Regions from separate parts of the Homo sapiens genome. Here region 2 is linked to region 1. Evidence: fine-mapped expression QTL. A gene starts in region 1. The other region holds a variant in brackets. All regions are shown on one strand. Distances are from middle to middle. Region 1 holds the start of DOCK5 (dedicator of cytokinesis 5). Region 2 overlaps DOCK5 (dedicator of cytokinesis 5).

The links.
Region 2: its variant is fine-mapped to the expression of DOCK5 in whole blood (INTERVAL, PIP 0.91).

What each region holds. Positions count from the first base shown.
Region 1 is chr8:25,176,468-25,188,341 of GRCh38, forward strand. It overlaps DOCK5 (dedicator of cytokinesis 5), which reads left to right and starts at 8,222. Exons shown (of 52, transcript NM_024940.8): 1 at 8,222-8,484. The coding sequence starts at 8,442. LOC124901912 (a long non-coding RNA gene) reads right to left here and starts at 7,910. Exons shown (of 2, transcript XR_007060861.1): 1 at 4,350-7,910; 2 at 1,314-3,577. RefSeq lists silencers at 8,040-8,119, 8,130-8,299, 8,470-8,519.
Region 2 is chr8:25,373,905-25,386,243 of GRCh38, forward strand. It overlaps DOCK5 (dedicator of cytokinesis 5), which reads left to right. Exons shown (of 52, transcript NM_024940.8): 37 at 660-750; 38 at 3,401-3,520; 39 at 6,401-6,490; 40 at 8,770-8,874. Among named protein-coding and RNA genes, the nearest start is that of MIR6876, 35 kb to the left of the region's middle. The variant T/TAC (reference allele first, on the strand shown) is at 5,945.

The DNA.
Region 1 (11,874 bases):
CCATGCTCTGCTAATTCTTGTCTTTTTAGTAGAGACGAGGTTTCACCATGTTGGCCAGGCTGGTCTCGAACTCCTGACCTCTGGTAATCTTCCCGCCTCAGTCTCCCAAAGTGCTGGGATTACAGGCATGAGCCATTGTGACCAGCCAAGTTTTATATTTATAGTTCTTATCACTGGGAATAGAGTTCAAAGGGCTAGGCCAGTAGACAATTCCCCAACACACGATATTCACTGCTCTCAGAAGTGCCCCCATCCTCTGATTTCTATGGCAACTTTTACTATTGGAGTCCTCCTCTTCCCATGACTTTTTTTCCAAGGGCTTCTCACAAATCCTTATGCAAACAGACTTCCAGTGGGAAAGCACCACACATGCTTCCTTAGTTATGCTGCTCCTTCTGGAGGCCCCCAGCCTTCCCACCCACCTAAAGGGGTGACAGTCATAGTGTAGAGCAGGGATTGGCAAACTAAGGCCCAAGAGCCAACTCTGCCTCACCACCTGCTCCTGCGCAGCCTGCAAGATAAAGATAAGATAAAGATAAGAATTTTTTTTTTTTTTTTTGAGACAGTCTCGCTCTGTCACCAGGCTGGAGTGCAGTGGTGTGACCTCTGCTCACGGCAACCTCTGCCTCCCAGATTCAAGCCATTCTCCTGCCTCAGCCTCCTGAGTAGCTGGGACCACAGGCACATGCCATTACACACAGCTAATTTTTGTATTTTTAGTAGAGACGGGGTTTCACCATATTAGCCAGAATGGTCTCGATCTTCTGACCTCGTGATCCGCCCGCCTCAGCCTCCCAAAGTGCTGGCATTACAGGGGTGAGCCACCACGCCTGGCCAAGATAAGAATGTTTTTTACATTTTTAAATGATAAAGAAAAACATCAAAAGAAGGATAAACAATAATATTTCTTTTCTTTCCTTTCCTTTTCTTTTCTTTCCTTTCCTTTTTTTAAGATAAGGTATCACTCTTATCGCCCAGGCTAGAGTGCAGTGGCACAACAATCGCAGCTCACTACAAGGTCAACCTCCCCAGGCTCAAGTGATCCTTTCACCTCAGCCTCTTGAGTAGCTGGAACAACATGTGTGTGCCAACACACATCTAATTTTTGTGTTTTTTGTAGTGACAGGATTTCTTCATGTTGCCCAGGCTGGTCTTGAACTCCTGGACTTTAGCAATCTGCCCACTTCGGCCATTCAAACTGCTGGGATTACAGGGGTGAGCCACTGCACCTGGCCAGAATAATATTTCATATGCATAAAAATACATGAAATTCAAATTTCAAATCTACTGTTAAAAGAAAGACCATAGCCAAATTAAATTTAACATACTTTAATTGAGCAAAGAACGACTTGAGAATCAGGCAGCCTCCTGAGCCGGGGTAGGCTCAGCAACTCCAGTGCAGCCACGTGGTGGAAGACGATTTATAACAGAAGAAGGAAAGTGATGTACAGAAAACAGAAATGAGGTACAGAAAACGGAAATGGGGTACAGAAACAGGCGGATTGGTTACAGCTCAGCAGCTGGGCGTTTACCTTATTTGAAGACAGTTTTAACAGTTTGCCTCCTCTGATTGGCCAAAACTCAGTGATTGGCACAAGAATAGGTTTTGGTCTGTTTACACTTCCATTGAGATTATAGTTCGCTATGTACAGAGAAACCTTTAGGCTGAACTTAAAATATGTAAGGAGGCAGGTTTAGTCTAAACTTGATCTAACACAACTAATGAAGTTTTACTGGGACACAACCACACTCAATTCATTGTATGTATTGCTCATAGAGGCTTCCCTGCTACAACTGCAGAGTTGAGTGGTTGCAACAAGGCCATATGGCCTGCAAAGCCTGGGAACTATCCATAGTGGGGCCTTTATAGCAAAAGCTTGCAGACCTCTGCTTTAGAGCATGGACCCTGGAGTCAGGCTGTCTGGGTCTGGATTTTATTTTGCCACTAATTAATTATGTAGGTAATTTCTGGACACCTCCTAAGCCACATTTGTGAGGTGGGAATGACCGGAGAGTTATATTTACCTCATTAGGTTGTATGGGGATTAAACAAGGTGATTTGGAGCCAGTACTCATTACTTCATACGCAGTTATTATTGTTACTTTACAGTTGGTGGCTGTGAAAAAATAAAATCGTTCTGGTATTAAATACAAGTTCTGGATTAAATGCTTGTTTTCTTAACTGACCACAAACAGGAAGAAAAATCTGCTGAATATGACAGTCGTCTAAACAAGATAGTCATAGTGTCCGTGTGCCCAAGGAACTGAAGAGTGAAACTTCACTCTTGTCACAAAAAATGATCAGATTTAGGCAAATAACTTCCTACTCTTGCTACATAGCCCAGAGACTTCAGCAATCAAGTATTTTTCTTTATTTTGTTTTGAAGAAGGTTGAATAAAATTTGTCATTTATTCATGTTCTTCTATGGTCATTTTCCCTGTAAATCTATGACTTTCTATAGCTACAATCATTTTGCGGCATAGACAATCTAATTATTTTCATTTATGCCTACATTATACATTTTCCACATTTCTTCTAAGTTTTCATCATCTCTCTTTTTGTTCTTTTTTTTTTTTTTTTTTTTTTTTGGCAGGGGGAACAGGGTCCCCCTGTCACCTAGGCTGGAATGCAATGGTGCCACATCAGCTCACTGTAACCTCCACCTCCTGGGCTCAAGGAATCCTCCTACCTCAGCTTCCTGAGTAGCTGATACTACAGACACACACCACCACACCCTGGTAATTTTTGCATTTTTTGTAGAAACAGGGTTTTGCCGTGTTGCCCAGCCTGGTCTCGAACTCCTGGGCCCAAGTGATCTGCCCGCCTTGGCCTCCCAAAGTGCTGAGATTACAGGCATGAGCCACTGCGTCCAGCCCATCATCTCTTATTTTAAACAGTTTTATGAATATAATTTTTCAATGTATATAGGAATCAAGACATACGGTAAATAAACATAGTTTGTTTTTTTTAAAATCAGGTAGTTTGATTTCATCTCACCTAAATATGGATCTAGTTTTCAAGAAACTAATGCCTTCTTACTGCTCACATCATCCACCTCTCCCAACAGTGGAATCAGCTCATTTAGACACAGCAAAGAACATTCCAGAAACAACACTAGAAAAAAGAATTTTCCCATGTTCATGAAAAGGGTAAATCATAAGTATAAATCTCCTTGTGACAGAGATGAGGAGATAATAGCATTGGAGCCCCGAGCATTATCTTCCCATCCATCAGAGAAGCCGGACCCCCACAGCCACATGGCAGAGCCTGTGCAGACTCAGAGATGCTCACGACCTAAGTCACTTGCAGAGTGGAGAGTGAATAATGATGTTGGAATCCCTGGGGCCTATGAAAAGGTACTTCTGGGACTAGGGTGATTCATGGTTTCCTTTGTCCTGCTAAGCTCATGGGTCCCAGAATTACAATGTATCACCTACTCCTGGCTTACTTAGAACCATCCTTAGGAGCCTGCAAAGCACTGCTTAGAACCAATTACATTATTTGCATTGTTATCATTTTTTTGGTAGTTCCATTAGCCACTGACTCGTATAGGATCACAGAATAATCTTCTTTTATCTAGAGAGAGAGAGAAAAAAGACACTTTAAACGACTCCACAGCATCTCATAGAGAAGCCATCAGACCAGCCTGATTTGGCAAAAACAAGCCTGGTAATCAACAGGGAGGTGAGGCTCTTGCCAGTTCTCTTCACATCCTGTCCATTTATTCTCTAAGGCATTGTAAGGGTTAGTCACAATACTCATGTCAAACTAACCCTCAAAGCCACTTACCCTCATTTCTTTCTCCATGGCTCCTTCAAGCAGAGCCTGTGAGTGTCTGTGCGTGCTTAAGTGTGTTTGTATTTGTGTGGGTTTTGGAGTCTGAAGATCTCTGTGGAATATGCTTAATGTTTCTTCTGAAAAGATATCAGAGGAAAAAAAAAGGGTATTTCTGGGCATCACGCTGTCATTCCAACTGCCTGTCTGGTTAACTGTCTAATTTTAAGCCTCATTCTAATAAAAGACTTTGAAAAGCTCTGCTTTTATGATTTAAAAGGACATTCACACTAGGATTTAGCCATCTGATATAGCAAAGTGAGTGGATTTCAGTTTTCAAAAGGAAATGATAAACATACTGAAAGCTGTAATTAAAATTTTCCATTTTCCTCCAACTCTCTTAAAGCCATTGTCAAATTTGAAATCTCTGGCACCCAAATTCAAACCTCTAGTTTTGGAAGAAGAAGACTTCAATGCAAAAGTGGGATGAGGCAGTTGAAATCGCTTTGGTAGAAACCCAGTTCCACTGGATAAGAGCATTAACATTCTGATGTATGGTACATTTGAAATATACCTTTGGTCAGAGAACAGAGGTCATCCAATTTCCCTAAGCACGGAGAATTCATGTAACTTTGAGAAGCCCTGAGTCCACAACAGGCAAGTCATATAATCCAGTGCAGAGCGCTTTAGCTCCTAAGGGGCCACATGGAGAAGTTGCTGAGGAAGGCGTGAAGAAGTGGGTCCTAAAGAAATATTGAAAGGAAAACTTTGATACAGAGCAACTGGGACAGGAAAGGGTGAAGACAAGATAGATATAAATGGTGACCAAGACAATGGCAACTCTACTCCCTTGCTATTCAAGCCCCAAACCTTAGAGTCACTCTTTTTGTTTTGAATTAATATTTGTTTAGAGACAGGGTCTTGCTATGTTGTCCAAGCTGAAATGCAGTGCCAATTCACAGGTGCCATCCCATTATTGATCAGAAGGGGAGCTCAAGAGAGGGTGCCACCTGGAGCCTGAGGCAGTTCAAATGTGAAGTCCCGGCTACGGGATCTTTGTCAATAATGCAGTCAGTGACAGAGAAAAGACAAGGATGCATCCAGTTGCTTTCTACACAGGGATGCTCTCTGGGCTGCTGGCTGGTTGGAAAAGGGAGGTCTTGGGGTAGATTTCCCCCTGGATATGTGGGCCTGAATTTCTTCAGCTAAGGAGGAGTACCGAAGTTTTGGGATATAGGACTTCCAAATTAGGGCTTTCCAAATAATTGACCCGCTCCATTTCTGACCTGGACCAGTTCACCCCTCCTTAGGCAACCTGGTGGTCGCCTGCTCCCAGGATGTCACTATATTGATGCGGAACTTAGTGCAGACACCTGATCAGCATAGCTCACTGCAGCCTGGAACTCCTGGGCTCAAGCAATCCTCTTGCCTCAGCCTCCCTAGCAGCTGGGACTACAGGCATGTGCGACCTAGCTGGCTTTAGAGTCATTCTTGACCCAGCTTGTATCTCACATGCAGGGACAAGAACCAAGGTGTGTGGGGCCTGAAGGGTGTACGATACGGGTAGGGCTCTTTAAAAAAAAAAAGAAAAATACAAGCATATCTCTTTCTGGGGGAAAACTTTCCAAAAAAGATTGAAGCCTCACAGTAGTAGATCCCCCTGCCGTTCATGTGGCCCTCCTCTTGGTTCTTTTTCATGCTGTGATGCAATCATAGCTCACTGCTAGCCTCGACCTCCTGGGCTCAAGCAATCCTCCCACCTCAGTCTCCTGAGTAGATAGGGCCACAGGCACAGCCACCATGCCCAGGATATATATATAGTAGAGGAGGGTCTCACTATGTTGTCCAGGCTGATTTTGAACTCCTGACCTTAAGCAATCCTCCCACCTCAGCCTCCCAAAATGCTGGGATTACAGGTGTGAGCCACCACATCTGGCCAGGCTCTATTTTCACGTATGTCAAGAACCCAACATCTTTTTCACCTCCATCCTTATCCTCCTGGACCCAACTACCTTCATGTCTTGCCTGAATGACTGAAATAGCCCCCAACATCCATCCATGTGGGCCTCCCTTGCCCCTTTACAATGGATTCATACCACAGCAGGCAAGTTCAATATGTTCCAGGTTGGCTCAAAGCCCTCCAAACCTCGCTTGTAGTAGTAATATATAAAGTCCATATGCCTGCCAGGGTTCTGCTCTATCTGGCATTCCTCTGCCTCTTAGACCAAGTTTCCTCTCACCTGTTACTCAGCTCTCATTACCTAGGATCTCTGGGTGACCTGGGAACCTGCCAAACACGCTTGGTGTCCTTTGCCTTTGCTGTTCCTCTTTTCCAGAATACTTTCTCCCGGAATCTTCACTTCCTTCAGGTCTACACCTCAACCTCAGCTTAGCAGAGCTGCATTCCCAGACCACTCCATAAAAACAGCAGCACCCTACACGCCCTATCCTCCCTGCTTTGGATTTTTCTCTAATGTTTACTCTCGTTTGGTGTACATTTCTTTACTGTCTTACTCTCCCCGTCTAGACTAGAAGCTCTGTGAAGGGACACATTCTACTGTATTCACCGCTGCACCCTCATTCTTAGAGTGATGCCTGGCACTTAACGTGTAGGCATTTAATATGTGTGTGAAGAAGGAAGAAGAAATTACCTAACCTGGGAAATTAGAATCATGATATACTAATGGAGGAAGATAAATTATTTTAGGGAAGATGGTGGAATTCTTTCTGGATGTCAAGTCTAAAGTGACAGAGGAATTTCTTAAATTATTGTTAAACATTGTGAATAAATACCTATTGGTTGATGGAGAAAAAAAAAGCCAGCTCTAGTAGTTACCCACCGTGAATAGGACTTAAAAAAAATTTCAGACCTCGTTTGGTAAAAAACCACCAAAGTTAAAATGCACTAATTCTCCAATGAAACTTTACTATCTTGTTACCTTGTTTGCCTATCTATCTTTACTGTCTTTTTTTTTTTTTTTTTTTTTTAGACGGAGTTTTGCCCTGTTGCCCAGGCTGGAGTGCAGTGGCGCGATCTCGGCTCACTTATAGCCTCTGCCTCCCGGGTTCCAGCGATTCTCCTGCCTCAGCCTCCTGGGTAGCTGGGATTACATGAGCACACCAGCACGTCTGGCTAACTTTTGTATTTTAGTAGAGAAGGGGTTTCACCATGTTGGCCAGGCTGGTCTGGAACTCGTGACCTCAGGTGATCCACCCGCCTCGGCCTCCCAAAGTGCTGAGATTACAGGCATGAGCCACCACGCCTGGCCAACTACCTGTCTTTACTATCTTTACTACATGTTTGTCTTCCTTTCTTTTATATTCCTAAAACGCATGAAAACCTTCACAGGCTGCAAGGAGGATATAATTTCTCTCTAGAGGAATCTTCTTCGAAGGTGAACGTAATTAAGCTGGTCATTTACTCTACTTGCAATGTTACTTCTCGGTACAAGGTAGGGAGAAACCCCTGGATCTTCATTCTCCAAGTCTCTCCAGGAAGAAATGAATTCCAAGAGGGGAGCTCCAGAGAGGGCGCCACCTGGAGCCCAAGGCGGTTCAAATGCGCAGCCCCTTTGGGATCTTCGTCAAGAAAAGGCAGTCGTTGACGGAGAAAAGACGGGGATGCGCCTTGGCCCTTTCTCCACGGGAATGCTCTCTGGGCTGCTGGCTGGTTGGGAAAGGGAGGTCTGGGCATGAGGGTCTAAGTTTCTTCAGCTTAAGGTTGGGGGGTCCCCGGAGTTTGGGGATACAGGACTTCCAAATTAGGGCTTTCTAAACAATTTCCCTGCAGAGGATCCCCTAGCAAACGGTCTGATACTTCTGAGGAGCCCACCTCCCTTGCACCAGCTCTCCGGTGATAAAAGTTCTGCTTTCCAGGCTCTAAGCGGTGGCCCCGGGAGATTCAGTCTGCCCTGAGTCCGGCTTCTCCCGCTCGCGGCGCGGGTTCAAGCTCCAGGGGGTGAAGGCAGAAGTCAACTGCTCATTCATTCAACAAATATTTATTGCGCGCCCGCTTAGTGCCAGGCACCGGAGGTGCCCCGAGCAAGAAGCCGCTCTCGCTGATCCGTTTCCGCTCCCCAAGTGTCCGGCGCGCGCCGTGGGAGCGCAGCCCGCATCCCTCGCCCACCGGCCGCCCGGCCTGGGCGTGCCCGGCTCCTCCAGCGCAGCCCTCTGTCGGGAGCCGGACCCCCGGGACCCAGCCTCCGGGGTATCAGCCGGGTGGGGAGGGCGGGAGAAAGGCAAAGTGCCGCCAGCGTCAAAGTCCCGCCGGCCCAGGAAGCCGCTCCAGGGAAGCGCGCGAGGCGGAGCCGCAGTCGGCCCCCGCCCGGCAGAGCGCAGAGAGCGGCGCGGGCGGGAGAGGCCGGGCGCCCGCGGCTCGGAGGCGGCCCCGGCGGGCGGAGGGTGCGGCCGGCGGGAGGGACTGGGGCGGCGCCAGGAGGGGCGCGCACTGCTGCGCTGCAGCCCGGCCCAGCAGGTGACCGCGGGCGGCGCGGGCACGGGCACGGGCGCGGGCGGCGCGGCGAGGAGGCGGCCCGCGGAGTCCAGCGAAGTTTGGCGGAACATGGCGGAAGCGTCTGGGGCACGCAGGAGCGCGGGGCGGCGGCGGCCGGAGCCCGAGGAGCTGTAGCAGCCTTAGTCGCCGCCGCCGCGGGGCGAGGTCGCCGCCATGGCCCGCTGGATCCCGACCAAGAGGCAGAAGTACGGGGTTGGTGAGTGCGCGCCCCACCTTGTCCCGGCCCGACCCACGCGGCCAAGTTCGCGGACAGCGGCCCTGCCAGGTTTGCGCAGAGCCCGGCGGAGGACCCTGGCCGGGGGCTCGGCCCGGCTGCGCAGCTCTGGGAGCCGGGGACGGTAGGAGTCCTCTCCAGGGAGCGCCGATGGGGAAGTCGCCCAGGGTTTGGGGACTCCGAGTGCTTCCAAGTGCAGCTGAGCTTCGGGACCGTAATCCCGCTCTTGCATCCCAATCTCCGGCACTTCACACCAGGGAAATGTCAACGCGAGGGGGGCGCGCCTGCTGCTCTTTTGGGGCCGCAGCTCTGTGGCTCGCCCCGGTGCGCCCAGCGTGGGTTTCACCTGGGAGTAGGTGACCAGCCCGGGTCGGCACATGGACTGGTGCTCATTGTCCCAGTGCTTTCTGCCCCCCGCTTTCGTAGGTTCTTCTCAGACGCCCCTTAAGTGAGGAGTTGAGGGTGGAAAGCCGCCCTGCCCCCTTTCCTCCAGAGACTGGGATCTTGATGACAGTTGTGAGCTGGATGGAAACTAGAGTCGTGGCGTGGAAGTGATGGAAGGGACAGGAAGTTGTGGCACGGGAAGGGGGTGGCTGGCCCCTGGGGCTGTTTGTGCGCACTCATCCCCTAACGGAGCCTGTCTGGAGAGGGTGTAAGGCTGCCTTCCGGATCCTGAGTTTCATCCTGGAGACGAGAAGAGGACATTTTATTAAGGAAACTGTGCCAGACCCCGTGCTGGGCACTTGGCATTCAGAACAGCGGTGCTGGAGAGCCCCGGGTTGTGCGCAGGGGTTGCTGGTGGTGGTGCTTTGGCTCCGAAACAATAGATGTGCGGGGATTTTGACCCAGGTGGAAAGTCAGGCTCCTTTGGCTTTTTATCAAGGATTGAAGTTATTGAGGGCCTGTGGGAAGACTTCTGCCCTGAACGGGGTGATTACAATGGCAGTTAGACCTGGGGTGATTCCCTACAATAAACACGGCTGAGTGTGTTGCGAATTTTATCACTTCCTCTCAGATCCATTCATTTGGCCTGTTTGTAATTTAGTCTTTGACTTTACTCCCTTACTGAGGTCCTGTTTTTCCTCACCTCACTGGTTAATGAAGTGCAGTCTCAATTAAGAGCTACTCAACGTGTCTAGGGGCTTTTCAACTCTGTAGCCAGGAGTCAGGGTTTTTTGTTGTTGTTTGTTTTGTTTTTTAACAGTCTCATATTTACTATATTATTCTTAGGTTGTGATCCTTTATATATTTATTATTTTTTGTTTTCCCTCAATTCAAAAGACATTTTCTTTTTTGCTCTTAAGTTGCTTTTAGAATCTTAGTCTCTCCCTTAGCTGCATCTCAGAAATGGGTAGAGATGTTGCTTCTGCCTCAGGGCTCTTTTTTTTTTTTTTTTTGGTTTGTTTGTTTTTGAGACGGACTGACGAGGGAGTCTCACTCTGTCGCCCAGGCCGGAGTGCAGTGGCGCAATCTCGGCTCACTGCAAGCTCCACCTCTAGGTTCCAGCAATTCTCCTGTCTCAGCCCCCCTCCCCGAGTAGCTGGGATTACGGGCTTGCATCACTACACCTGACTAATTTTTGTATTTTTAGTAGAAACCAGGTTTCGCCATCTGGGCCAGGCTGGTCTCAAACTCCTGACCTCAGGTGATCCGCCTGCCTCGGCCTCCCAAAGTGTTGGGATTACAGTCATGAGCCACCTCACCTGGCCCCTAGATGAAAGCATATTTACAATGCCCAATCACTACAGAAATGTTATCAACTCTAATTTTATCAGGATTAAAAGCTCTTTTCAAAACTATTCAGTTGAGGGTAATTAATGCAAACATGTTTCAAAAATGTGGTTTTTATTGCCATAGTCCTAGGAGCAAGTATAATTGTTTTTAATATTTTGTTTTTATGTTCTGGAGTCAGTTTACTGTGTCACTTATCAGTCAAGAAAAATATTTGGGCCAGGTGCGATGGCTCACGTCTGTAATCCCAACAATTTGGGTGGCAGAGGCAGGAGGATTGCTTGAGCCCAGGAGTTCAAAACTAGCATAGCAACATGGCAAACGGGTCTTTACAATAAATACGAAAAAAATTTAGCCGGGCATGGTCGCCTGTGCCTGTGGTTCTAGCTACTGAGGAGGCTGAGGTGGGAGGATAGCTTGAGCCTGGGAGGTTGAGGGTGCACCGAGCCCCCATCACGACACTGCACTCCAGCCTGGGTGATACTGTGAGACCCGATCTCAAAAAAAAAACTATATATACATATATATACGTATATATATATATACACACACACACACACGTATACACACACATATATGTATATATGTATATACATATATATGTATATATGCGTATATGTGTGTGTGTGTATATATATATGTATATGGAAATATGGGTGGAAATTGTGTGTGTGTGTGTGTGTGTGTGTGTGTGTGTAAAATATTTGGATTGCATTTCCAGGGCCTAGGTGTTAGGGAAACTGCTCCAGGATATAATTCTGAACACTTATTTCACCAGACATAGATTCTGGTTTGTCTGGGTTTGACAAAAGGACCCACAGTTGGGATAAATTAACTGAAGAGAGAAATCTCCATTGCTTATTGCTAAAACTCATTGTTTTTGTCACCTCCTTGCTTATGTTTATGTCACCTCCCTGCTTGGAAGTCTCTCGTGGTCAACAGGATAAAGTCTGAGCCTCCGTTCCAAGGTTCCTATAATCTGGTTCAGCCTATCTTCAGCATTATCTCTCGAGGCTTCTTTCACTAGCTCTCCAATGCAGACCAACTGCCCTTCCCACTGTTGTGCAACATACCCTGCAGAGTCCCTCCTTTGGGACTTTGCTCCCATTGTGCCTGTCCCTGCCAGGAGTGCCCTCCCAACTCTGCCTCAGACAGCTCACCTTTCCTTGAGGGCTCAAATCCATTCCTACTCCCTTCTTCAAATTTGCTATTTGTCAGACTGTCCCAAACCTCCTTGCTTCTTCCTCGCAGTTCCTGGACTGTGCCATCCTTGGGTTCAGTGAATCAGACCATTGTGGTTTTGTATTCCTAGCACTCAACAGGTGTACCAGGTATTAGTGCATTCAGTTTGCTTGTCCTTGATGTTGGGGTGCCGTTCTAAAGTACACTAACCTAGCTTGTCTGGTAATTGAATGCAGTTTTTTCCTCTTCTTTTTCTTCCCATTAGGCATAACATCTCATTCACCCCAATATGAGTTGAATTTTGTTTGGTTAGATGGAGGAAGGGAGAGCCTCCACTCTGTCTTTATCTCTGCAAGTAAGAGAATGAGATATTCTGCTGAGAAAACAAGGAAGCATGGAGCAGACAGACTTTCTTAAATATAGTTGGGAAAATTGGCTTTCTGGACTTCTCTAAGTGTG
Region 2 (12,339 bases), 200 kb after region 1:
GGGTGGGCAGGAGAGGCTGTACAGGAAGAGGCAGGAAAACCCACCCAAGAGTCTTAGCTTGAAGTCTGCGAATCCCTGAACATGAAACAAACTTGTACGTAACCAACGTGCATGTTGTTGGGGAGAGATTCCATAGCTTTCATTAGCTTCCCAGAGGGGTCCAAGACCTAATATTTAAAAACATTAAACACCACTGCCTTAAAGAAAGAAGAGAAACTAGTCTAGGTGGAGTCAGAGAAACACGGAGGCAGGAGGTGCACAGTGTATTGAAGAAATGGGGAAGATCCGACTTCTTGGCTCAAGAGGAAGGAATTGCTTCTGTACAGTAGTGGGGAGGGGGGTCAGGCAGGGAAGCAGGCTGGGGTCTGGTTATGGAATGAGCTGAACACTAAATCAACTCTCGAGCCTGGGCAGCATGGTGAAACCCTGTCTCTACAAAAGATACGAAAATTAGCCGGGCCTGGTGGCACGTGCCAGCTACTTAGGAGGCTAAGGTGGGTGGATCACTTGAGCCCTGGGGCTTAAGGCTGCAGTGAGCCATGATCGGACCACTGCATACTGCAGCCTGGGCAATACAGCAAGACCCTGTCTCAAAACAGAACTAAAAAACCTATAAAACTCTCGAGTGACAAAATGCTTCCTTCTCCCCTTCTTGCCAGATATCTGTACAAGCTTCGAGATTTGCACCGAGACTGTGAGAACTACACAGAAGCTGCCTACACGCTTCTCTTGCACGCTGAGCTTCTGCAGGTGAATGGCTCAGAGAGCTTGTTTCAACAGGGTGGAGTACAGTGTCCTTTCAGACTAAATTCTATACATTTCATGATTTTGATGGGAAAGAACTTTATTCCAGGAATATCCTTTTATACAAGTTTTTTTAGTTCTTTCTAAATAGGCACAGCTAATTTGTAGATCAAGTATGGGAAAATGTCAGTTATCTTTTATTTAAAAATCCTTAGAAAGCAGAGCACGACTTATGAACCTTTGGTAATTGACACTCTAATTAAAGCAATAAAACACACATTGATGAATACATAAAAAAATTTGTAAAACTGCAGAAAACTGCAGAAAGATGAGTTATAAGTGAATATAGTACCATAGAAGTACTCTATTTTTATTCTCTCCCTAAATAAATGTATGTTGTGGTTTAGATATAAATACATCTATATGTTATGAATCCCAAGTAATTATTTCTAGCCCTGAGCACCTTCTCTAACTTTGGATTTACATATAAACTTTGATTGGCCAATATGCAGCTCAAACTGAACAAGGCGGTAACAGGAACCTTTATTTCTCACTCTTTGCTCCTCCCCAGCCCATCCTACCTCACTTTGTTACCATGTTACTAATAACATTCCCATCCATTTAGTTGCTCAGGCAACCTCATAGTCATCTTCAATTTCTCTCTTTTACTCACCACCTCCCACATTCTCCACAAGCGAGAGATGTGGCCCCTCTGTTCAGAACATGCCCCTAACTTATCCGCTTTTCTTTTTCTTTCTTTATTTTTTTTTTTAAAGAGATGAGATCTTGCTATGTTTCCCAGGCTGGTCTCAAACTCCTGGGCTCAAGCAATCCTCCCACTTCAGCCTCCCAGAGTACTAGGATTACAGGCATGAGCCACCATGCTAGCCAATCCACTTTTCTTTATCTCCCTGACTACCACCTTGGTCCATCCCGTAAGCATGTCACACCTTGAGCACTACAGCAGCCTCCTGTTTGGTGTCTCTGCCTCCAGTTTTGTTCTCAGCTATTAATATTCTTTTACAGTTTATATTTTATACTAAAGTAATATATGGGCATTGTCCGAACATATGAGTTAAAAATAGGATTCCTATGCCTCACCACTTCCCAAAGGAAATTCACAATTCATATTTAAGTTTAGGGCATTAAAAAGCTTATTGTATAATGGACTGGGCCTGGTGGCTCACGCCTGTAATCCCAGCTCTTTGGGAAGCTGAGGCCAGCAGATCACTTGGGGTCAGGAGTTCAAGACCAGCCTGGCTAACATGGTGAAACCCCATCTCTACTAAAAATACAAAAAATTAGCAGGCGTGGTGGCACCTGCCTGTAGTCCCAGCTACTCAGGAGGCTGAGGCAGGAGAATCATTTGAACCTGCAAGGCGGAGGTTTGCAGTATGCTGAGATGGTGCCACCATACTCCAGCCTGGGTGATAGAGCAAGACTGTGTCTCAAAAGAAAAAAAAAAAAAAAAAGCAACCTACTGTATATAGCTTAGAAAGTGAGGCTTGTTGACTGTGGATTTCGCCATTGTATGATCAGAAAGAAATCCCCAGTGTCTGTAACTGTAGGTCTTTTCATTTGGGAAACTCAGGAAGGTAAACTCTCCTATCCTGGTGTAAGATATGAGGTATGAATGCAGCTTTTTTTCCCCCCAGATTGCTATTCAATAGAGATGCTGTTTGTTAAGTATAGTTCACATTTTGCTTATTGGTATAAGATCCCATCTTTATTACTAAATTCTTATTTTGGGGGGAGGGAATCTCTTTCTAGATTGTATATGCTTTTACGTGGGTCTCTGTCTGTTCATGTACCAGTACCATACTGTATTAATTATTAATTCTTGATAGTGTGTTTTATGACCTGGTAGTTACTCTTGATTGCTCTTCTTTTTCAGAGTTTTCCTACCTATTCCTTTTTGTTAATTTTTCCATATGGACTTTGGAAAGATGAAATTTAAAAATTAATTTAGTGAGAATTTACATGTTAATGAAATAGAATTTTCTTATCCAAAAGCATGGTATGACTTTCCATTTGTTCGAGTCTGCTTTTGTGCCCTTCAATGGCGTGTGAAAGTTTTCTGCATATAAGTCTTGCATATTCCTTGTAATGTTCACTCTTAGAAATGTTCTTTTTGGACTTATTTTTGTTTGGTTCCATTCTTCTATTCTGTATATTTAGTCTCCGTGTATCTGAAATAAATTTTATTTCAAGTATATTAATTGTTCTTCCTGCTGCGTAACTTAATTCTCTTATTGTGTGTCGCAGTTTCTTAGTCAACTGCCTTGCATTGTGAGGAATACAACCATAATGTTTGCAAATTGTGGTAGTTTTACCTCTTCCTATTCATTTTTATACTCCTAATTTGTTCCTTTTATCTGACTGTGTTACTGATGCCCCAGTACAACGACAGTCATGTCAGTTAGCGACCTTGCTTTGTCGCTGGCATTTTGGGGGGATGCTGTGAGTGCTCCTTCATTTGGCATGATACTCTTGTTTTGGAGCTGGCATGTGTATATGTGTGTATATGTAACTTTTGTGTTTAATACATAATCTAAAATACAAAATCAATGAGTCAAATATATATACAATATTTTCTTGATGTTGGGGGGCTGAATATTTGTTGTATTAACCGTGTGTCGCTTTTCTTCCTTTTCAGTGGTCTGACAAGCCCTGTGTGCCTCATTTGCTTCAGAAGGACAGTTACTATGTTTATACCCAGCAAGAGCTTAAAGAGAAGCTGTATCAAGAAATCATATCATATTTCGACAAAGGCAAAGTGAGTATTGGATTGTTTTTGTACTAGGGGAAAGAGGAAAATGACCGCAGTATCGCAATACAATTCTGATGCTCACCACTTGGAGTTAGCACTGACTACCCAGGTTCAGGGCACTGTCTCCAACGAGACTGCCCCCGCTTCAGATGCCATCTTCAAATTTGGGGGTCCCCAGTCCATTCACAGTTCTGGGCAACTGGGTATACATCTGGGGGGCTTCCACTGCCCCCTCAGGTTTAATAGTCTGCTAGAACAACCAATAGTACACAGTGAAGTGCTATATTTAACCATTCCAGTTTCATCAGGAAGAATGTAAACTGGGGCCAGCCACATGAAGGGACCCATAGGGAACAGTCTGGGAGAATCTCAAGCGTGGGGCTTCTGTGTCTTCCCCCTGTGAACTCGGGGCACCTTCCCAGCAAATCAGTGTGTTCCTCAATCAGGAAGCTCACCCAAGCCATGGGTGTACAGAGTTTTTATTGGGGTTTCTTTTTTTTTTTTTTGGTAAATATGGGGTCTCACCAGTTGCCCAGGCTGGTCTAGAACCTAGAACTCCTGGGCTCCAGTGATCCTCCTGTATTGGCCTCCCAAAGTGCCAAGACTACAGGCATGAGCCACTGTGGGGTTTCATTATACAGGCAGGATTGAATGAATCGTTAACTACACAATGAACTTGATCTTTAGCCTTCCTTTTGTCCCTGAAGATTGGGCTGATATCGCATGGCTCACAGCCCTAACCTTCTAGTCACATGATTAGTATTTCTGGCATGGCAGCCCCCATCCTGAGACTAGGAGACCACCATGAGTCACCTCATTAGCATAGATTTGGGTATGATCCTGGGGTGGGGGCACCAGGAATAACAAAGACACTCTTATTATTTGAGAAATTCTAAGAAAATTCACCGGAACTCAGGACCAAGACCAGATACATGATTTAATATACAACAATAACTCACAGCTACTGTTTATTCTTCCCTTGTGTATTCTTGAATTCTGAGATTTCAGAGGGGGACAGATTTTGCAAACAATGATTTTAAAAGATTTAATTTTGAAGTGTTTCCCAATGGCTTGTGGGCTCTGCACACATTTCCTCAGAAGCCAGAAACAATGGAACATAGCACCTTGTGAACAGGAATGAAGCAGGAGGTGACCCGATGCTGCAAGTTGAATAGTATCCGTCTAAGAGACAGCTCATGAAATACCAAAGGGGTTAGAAGGCTCAATCTGGGCTGCTAGCCTCAGACACTGAGGACGTGCTTTAGCCTGTAACTTACATGGTTATACATGCTCGGAGGCATTTCCTAAAACTCATCCACTAAGTAGGGAAATCAGTGCCCTGCATTGAAATACAGTTTGCCAAATTCCACACTATCGGGGAAACCCACCCCCAATATTTCAACATAGGTTCTTTCTATTTTCCATAAGTGTTGGCCGGCTGATAAATAAAGAGAAAGAGTACAAAGAGAGGAATTTTACAGCTGGGCTGCCGGGGGCGACATCACATATCGGTAGGACCGTGATGCCCACCTGAGCTGCAAAACCAGCAACTTTTTGTTAAGGATTTCAAAAGGGGAGGGGGTGTACCAACAGGGAGCAGGTCACATACTTCAAGGGGCAAAAAGCAGAGCAAAGATCACATGCTTCTGAGGAAACAGGACAAAGGGCAAAAGGCAGAAACTCCTGAAGAGGGTCTATGTTCAGCGGTGCACGTATAGTCTTGATAAACATCTTAACAGAAAACAAGGTTTGAGAGCAGAGAAGCGGTCTGACCAAAAATTTACCAGAGTGGAATTTCCCAACCCTAGTAAACCTGAGGGTACTGCAGGAGACTGTTTATTCTTCCTTATCTCAACTGCATAGGACAGACATTCCCAGAGTGGCCATTTATAGACCTCCCCCCAAGGAATGCATTCCTTTCCCAGGGTCTTAATATTAATATTCCTTGCTAGGAAAAGAATTTAGTGATATCTCTCCTACTTGTACGTCCATTTATAGGCTCTCTGCAAGAAGAAAAATGTGGCTGTTTTTGCCCGACCCCGCAGGCAGTCAGACCTTATGGTTGTCTTCCCTTGTTCCCAAAAAATCGCTGTTATTCTGTTCTTTTTCAAGGTGCACTGATTTCATATTGTTCAAACGCACATGTTTTACAATCAATTTGTACAGTTAACACAATTATCATAGTGGTCCTGAGGTGACGTACATCCTCAGCTTACAAAGATAACAGGATTAAGAGATTAAAGTAAGACAGGCGTAAGAAATTATAAAAGTATTATTTGGGAACTGATAAATGTCCATGAAATCTTCACAATTTATGTTCCTCTGCCGCAGCTCCAGCCGGTCCCTCCATTCGGGGTCCCTGACTTCCTGCAACACCACACAACAGTACTGTTAGCCTTTTTCCATCTCCACAAACAACATCACTACACC[T/TAC]ACACACACACACACACACACACACCCATACACACACCTGTACACACACATTTCAGAACCAAAGTCCCACAGAAACTTCCCTTCCCCCTCCAACCAGACTTGCATGCTTTCCGAACCTGGGCTGGCAGAGCTTCCTCTCTACTTTGAAGTGCTGTAGGTGCTTGACCTGTTAAACACAGTATTGCTTTTTTGGGCGACACATGGTACTTATTCTTAATGTCCGTGCAAACAGAACTACAGAAGACGCCCCTGGCAAAGCTGCCAATATACACTGTCTTTATGATGTCAGGAAATGAAGGTTTCACTGATCTAAGGGATAAAGCGAGTGAGGAATATCTACCGAAACTCAATCCCCCAGACCACTTGCTCATTCCCAGTGACTCGCCAGTGGCTTTTGCCACTGAATCAATGACTGCCTTGTTCTCCACTTTTAACCTTACTTTCCTTTTTCTGAAGATGTGGGAGAAGGCCATCAAGCTGAGCAAAGAGTTGGCTGAGACTTACGAAAGCAAAGTATTTGACTACGAGGGCCTTGGCAACCTCCTGGTGAGTCTGGGTCAAAATATGTTAGGCCTCTGACAGGGTTGCTAAAATTAGCACTCATGAAAATGTTTCCGTAAGTTGAAAGTCAGGATGAATGGTGTTTTTTTACAATGGAAAAGTCAACTTTGCTTGAAATGAGAATGAAAAAAGATGTAGTCCAAAGGCTCTGATCAATATTTCTGCCAAATATCCTTCAGAGAAGGTTCAGGACATCTCTGGAAGTGGAGTGGGGTTGTCTCGACAGTGTGGTGGAATATTGAGTTTCAGATAGTAGTGACTCGCTTTCCACATCCCTCAGGATCTCTGTCTGCAGCTCTCTCATTCTTCCTGAAGCCATTTTTCTTTCTGTGGGCCCTCCATATTCCCAGCCATCAGTAAAGCAAAACAAAAATGAGTGCCCAGTGTTAGGCAGCCACCATTCTGAAAGCTCAGTGGAGGCAGCCACCATTCCGAATGCCCAGTGGAGGCAGCCACCATTCCGAATGCCCAGTGGAGGCAGCACCATTCCGAATGCCCAGTGGAGGCAGCACCATTCCAAATGCCCAGTGGAGGAGGCAGCCATTCTGAATGCCCAGTGGAAGGCAGCCACCATTCTAAATGCCCCAGCGGTAGGCAGACACCATTCTGAATGCCCAGTGGAAGGCAGCCACCATTCCAAATGCCCAGTGGTAGACAGCCACTCTTCTGAATGCCCAATAGAAGGCAGCCACCATTCTGAATGCCTGATGGTAGGCAGCCACCATTCTGAATGCCCAGTGGTAGGCAACCATAATATTAAATTTAATAATTTCTAGTAGAGGAGTTAGAAAAGATCAGGTCACCCATAGTCATGAAATAATCATTTATTTGAGGAGCTGGGTGTCAAGATCACTTTGTAAAAAGTTTACCAGTGTGCTATTACCAGCCCCTGGCTTCACATGCAAAAAACTGACTTATTAATTTCATCAACTGGGCTGGGCACGGTGGCTCATACCTGTAATCTCAGAACTTTGGGAGGCCAAGGCAGATGGATCACTTGAGCCTAGGACTTCCAGACGAGTCTGAGCAACATAGTAAGACACCATCTCTACAAAAAATATAAAAAATTAGCTGGGTGTGGTGGCACCTTCCTCTAGTCCCAGCTACTTTTGGGAGGCTGAAGTGGGAGGATCACCTGAGCCTGGGAGGTCAAGGCTGCAGTGAACTGTAATCATGCTACTGCACTCCAGCCTGGGCAACAGAATGAGACCCTGTCTCAAAAAAAAAAAAAAATTTCATCAACTGAACTGAGCTGAAATATTAGTAATGTAACATGTTACATACCGGTCTAAGAAAATAGTATTTTGACGAGACCATCACCTAGATAGAAGAGTAATGGCATGCTAACCATTGTAGGGGAGGGGGCTCAGGTCATTGCTCAAAGCTGTCCACGTCTGGCTGGCTATTTTGCTTTCTTTAAGGCTGACCTTGTGAGCCAAAGCTGGAAAGCCCCTCATCTTGTGAAGAATTAAAGATAAAGATGGTAGCAGATACTGAAAAACCGAACATCACCACCACCTTCTGGGCACTTATAATTTACCAGACACTTTCATCCAGACCACCTGCATGAACTACACAGTCCTTCTTTTTAAAAATGTTCTTTATTTTATTATTATTTTTTCAAAACAGGGTCTCACTCTGTCACCCAGGCTGGAGTGCAGTGGTGCAGTCATAGCCCACTGCAACCTTGAACTCCTGGGCTCAAGACATCTTCCTGCCTCAGCTGCTGGCTAATTTTTTAATTTTTTGTAGAGATGGAGTCTCACTATGTTGCCCAGGCTGGTCTCAAACTCCTAGCCTCAAGCAATCCTCCCACCTCTGCCTCCCAATGTGCAAGGATTATAGGCGTGAGCCACTGCGCCTGGCCTTGGAAGGTTCTTTATCTTCTCCCATGGGTGTCTGGTTAAGTGCAGCCGCCTTCTGTGAATCTCAGAATGCACTTTTTAACCTTTTGTAGTCCCTGAGCCCACTTTGAGAAACTGCTGAAAGTTGTGCACTGCCCCGTTACGCAGAAGAATTCCAACGTGCACACACTTCAGCATACACCCTCAGGGAGTCACAGCCTTCCAACGTCCATTCATGGAGCCCAGGTCCAAAACCTGTGATCCGAGAATAGGATAACCCTTTTCTGCCCATAGGGTGTTTTCCAAAGACCTTTCATTGCTCTGGGTTACGTGGGAAACAACAAAACAAAGTCTGACTTTTTTTTTCCCCCAACTGTGTACTTATAACCTCCCCTTGGAATGTCTTGTTTTGTTTTCCAGAAAAAAAGGGCCTCATTTTATGAGAACATCATTAAGGCAATGAGGCCTCAGCCTGAATACTTTGCTGTTGGATACTATGGACAGGGCTTTCCTTCTTTCCTACGGGTAAGAAACCTGATGGTGGTCTCCCAGGCCATTAGGAGGAGGGAAGAGACTCATTTCTTTTCCAGATGGGCAACAGGGTGTTAGCAGCTGCCGACCCGTGTTCTCGCTGTGGGAGGTAGGGGAGGGAAACCACTTCCTGAGCAGCCGGCCTCTTCACCCCACACCCCCGGACACCCGTGGTGTTCTGCAGGTCTTTTGTGAAATGACTTTTCCCAGGTGCAGTGAAAAAGGGAAAAACAGAACCATCCCCCGCACTGGTCAGCTGCTACGGGTCACGCCAGGGAAAAGTGTGGACTGATGTATTTCGTTGTTTACCATGTTTCTAGCCAGAGCTAATTTGAAAATAGGTATCCCAAGAACCAGACTGCAGGAGTATCCCAAAATAAAACATTTTATTATAATAATAATGACAAGGATGGTATTTTTCTTCCATCTCAAAATTGTGTATAATGCGATATTCAATTTATAGTTTAATAAATAAAAATTCTTATCTCTTACGAAAAGTTTCTTTTAGAGCTGAGCTTTGCTTAAACATTTATTATCCATCTGCTTTCTCCTAATTTGAAAACAAGCGATAAAGCAAGCAATTTACATTCCTAACAGTGCCTAATGAGACAGTTTATTCATTCAGTCAGTAAATATTTATTGAACATCTACTGTGTGCCAGGCATAGGGAAGGCATTAGAAAGATCTTGCTGATTACAGTCAAACATAGTCCCTACTCTCATGGATTTTACAACCTAAACTCATGAGGGGAGATTTTAATCACACATGAATGTAAAATTTAATCTGCATGTCGGACGCAGTGGCTCATGCCTGTAATCCCAGCGCTTTGGGAGGCTGAGGCAGGCAGATCACTTGACGTCAGGGGTTCGAGACCAGTGTGGCCAACATGCTGAAACGCTGTCCCTACTAAAAGTACAAAAATTAGCTGGGCGTGGTGGTGCATGCCTGTAATCTCAGCTACTCAGGAGGCTGAGGCAGGGGAATTGCTTGAACCCAGGAGGTGGAGGTTGCATTGAGCCGAGATCACACCACTGCACTCCATCCTAGGTGACAGAGCGAGACTCCATCTCAAAAATAAATAAATAAATAAACTATAACCAAGAAAGATACCCTGTGCTATAAGAATCTGTAACCAGGAAGTATTTACCCAAGTGAAATAGAAACTTACCCTTTTACAAAAAATGTACAGGAATATTTATAGCAGCTTTAATCATAGTCACCAAAGACAGGATCCAATCCACGTGTCCCTGAACTGGTGATGGGATAAACAAACTTCAGTGTATCCACACAACAGAATACTGCAGCAGCCAAAGGCAGTCAGCTCCTGATACACACAACTGCGGGCATGATTCCCACCCACATGCAGCTTGCTAGGTAAAAGAAGTTACACTTAAAAGGCTGCGTACTCTGTGGTTTTATTTATACGAAATTCTTGCCTAGGCAACGCTTCCTATCAGGACAGAAAGTAGATCAGTGGTTGCTGGCCAGGGGGAGGTTGGCTGCAGAAGGGCCTGGGGAAATTTTTGGTGGCAGTGAAACTGTTCTGTATCTTGATTGTGGTCCTGGTTATGTTTGTCAAAACTCACAGAATTTTACACTAAAAGGGGTCCATTTTACTGTATGTAGATTATGTCTTAATATTATTATTTTATTTATTTATTTATTTATTTATTTATTTATTTTTTTTTTTTTTGAGACAGTGTCTCGCTCTGTCACCCAGGATGAAGTGCAGTGGTGGAATCTCGGCTCACTGCAACCTCCGTCTTCTGGGTTGAAGCGATTCTCGTGCCTCAGCCTCCCAAGTAGCAGGGATTACAGGTGTGCACGACCAGGCCCAGCTAATTTTTTGTATTTTAGTAGAGATGGGGTTTCACCATGTTGGCCAGGCTGATCTCGAACTCCTGACCTCAGTTGATCCCCCTGCCTCAGCCTCCCAAAGTTTTGGAATTATAGGCATGAGCCACCGTGCCCAGCCTATGTCTTAATAAAAAAAAGAATCAGGGCCTGGCACAGTGGCTCACACCTGTAATCCCAGCTACTTGGGAAGCTGAGGTAGGAGAATCACTTGAGCTCGGGAGGCAGAAATTGCAATGAGCCGAGATGGTGCCACTGCACTCCAGCCTGGGCGACAGAGCCAGACTCCATCTCAAAATAAAATAAAAAAAATCAGGAAAGACTTTCCAGGGATCCTCTGTTTCAGCTGCAACCTGAAAGGTAAGCTGGGAGTGGAGCAGGTAAAGGGGGTAGGAATAAGCATTGCAGGCAGAGGAAGCATCAGGCAAGAGCAGGGCAGTGCCTTGAAAGGAAGGGCCAGTGCAGCAGGCACAGAGAGAGCTGGGGTGCCAGCGGGGAGGCGGGGAGCCCTGGAAGAGCCTGCAGGGCCTTGGGGTTTCCTGGGGTGTTCTGTCTACATCCTGAGAGCAGTGGGAGCTGCTGCAGACTTTTCGTGTTGGAAAGGTCATCTGGCTTTTGTCTCCATGGTCATCCATGGAGAATGGATGGGAGGTGCTGCAGGTAAACCACTAAGAGACCATTGCAGATGTTCAGAAAAGAGATGACAGGCTAGACTCGGGACGTGGGGGTGGTGGCTTTACAGAGAAGCGGAAATACTAGAGGGGTGGAGATGAGGTCACAGCCATCTGATGATTGATGGGCTGTGTGGGTGAGGAAGTGAGAGTTGTCAAGAATGATTTCTGGGCTTCTGGCCTGCATCATTGGAGGGGGTAGTTGAACCATTTACTGGGACAGGAGGACCGGAAAAGGCCAGAGTCACAGAGGAGAGAATGAATTTATTCCTTGAGTAAATATTTATTAAACTCCTACCATATACTTGGCTCTAATATAGGCATGGGAGCAGAGTCAAAACGAACCAAAATCTTGAAATTATCTAGCTTATGTTCCAGCTTGGAGAGATCAAAAAATGAGATAAATCAATAAACTATTTAGTATGAGAGATGGCCTAGAACACTGCCTCCTACAGTGTAGCTACTCAGTAAGTATCATGGAGAAAAGGACTTAGGGAAGGGGACTAGAGAGGCAGGTGTTGGGGATGGAGTTACAATTTTAAATACAGTAAACAAGAAAGACTTCAGAAAGAAAATGGCATTTTTGCAAAAACCAGAAAAAAAGTTAAAGAATAAGCTATGCAGCTATCAAGAGGTTGAGCAAAGGTCCCAGACCTTGAGAATAGCAGGTCCAAAAGCTATGAGGCTGGAGTAGTTGTGTACAAGAGGGTGTATAGGAGAATGGGGCAGGTGGCTGTTGGTACCAGATAGCAGAGGGCCTCCCAGGGCTTTCTAAAGTGTTTGCAAAGTTTGGTTTTGCACGTACTCAAGGGGAGGTACATTTGGAACATCCAAAAGGCACAAGTCAACCATTAGCTGTATAGATCTGGAACTCAAGTGAAGTTACAGACAGGAGAGAAAAGTTGGTGAGTTACTTGTATGGAGTTAAAATAAC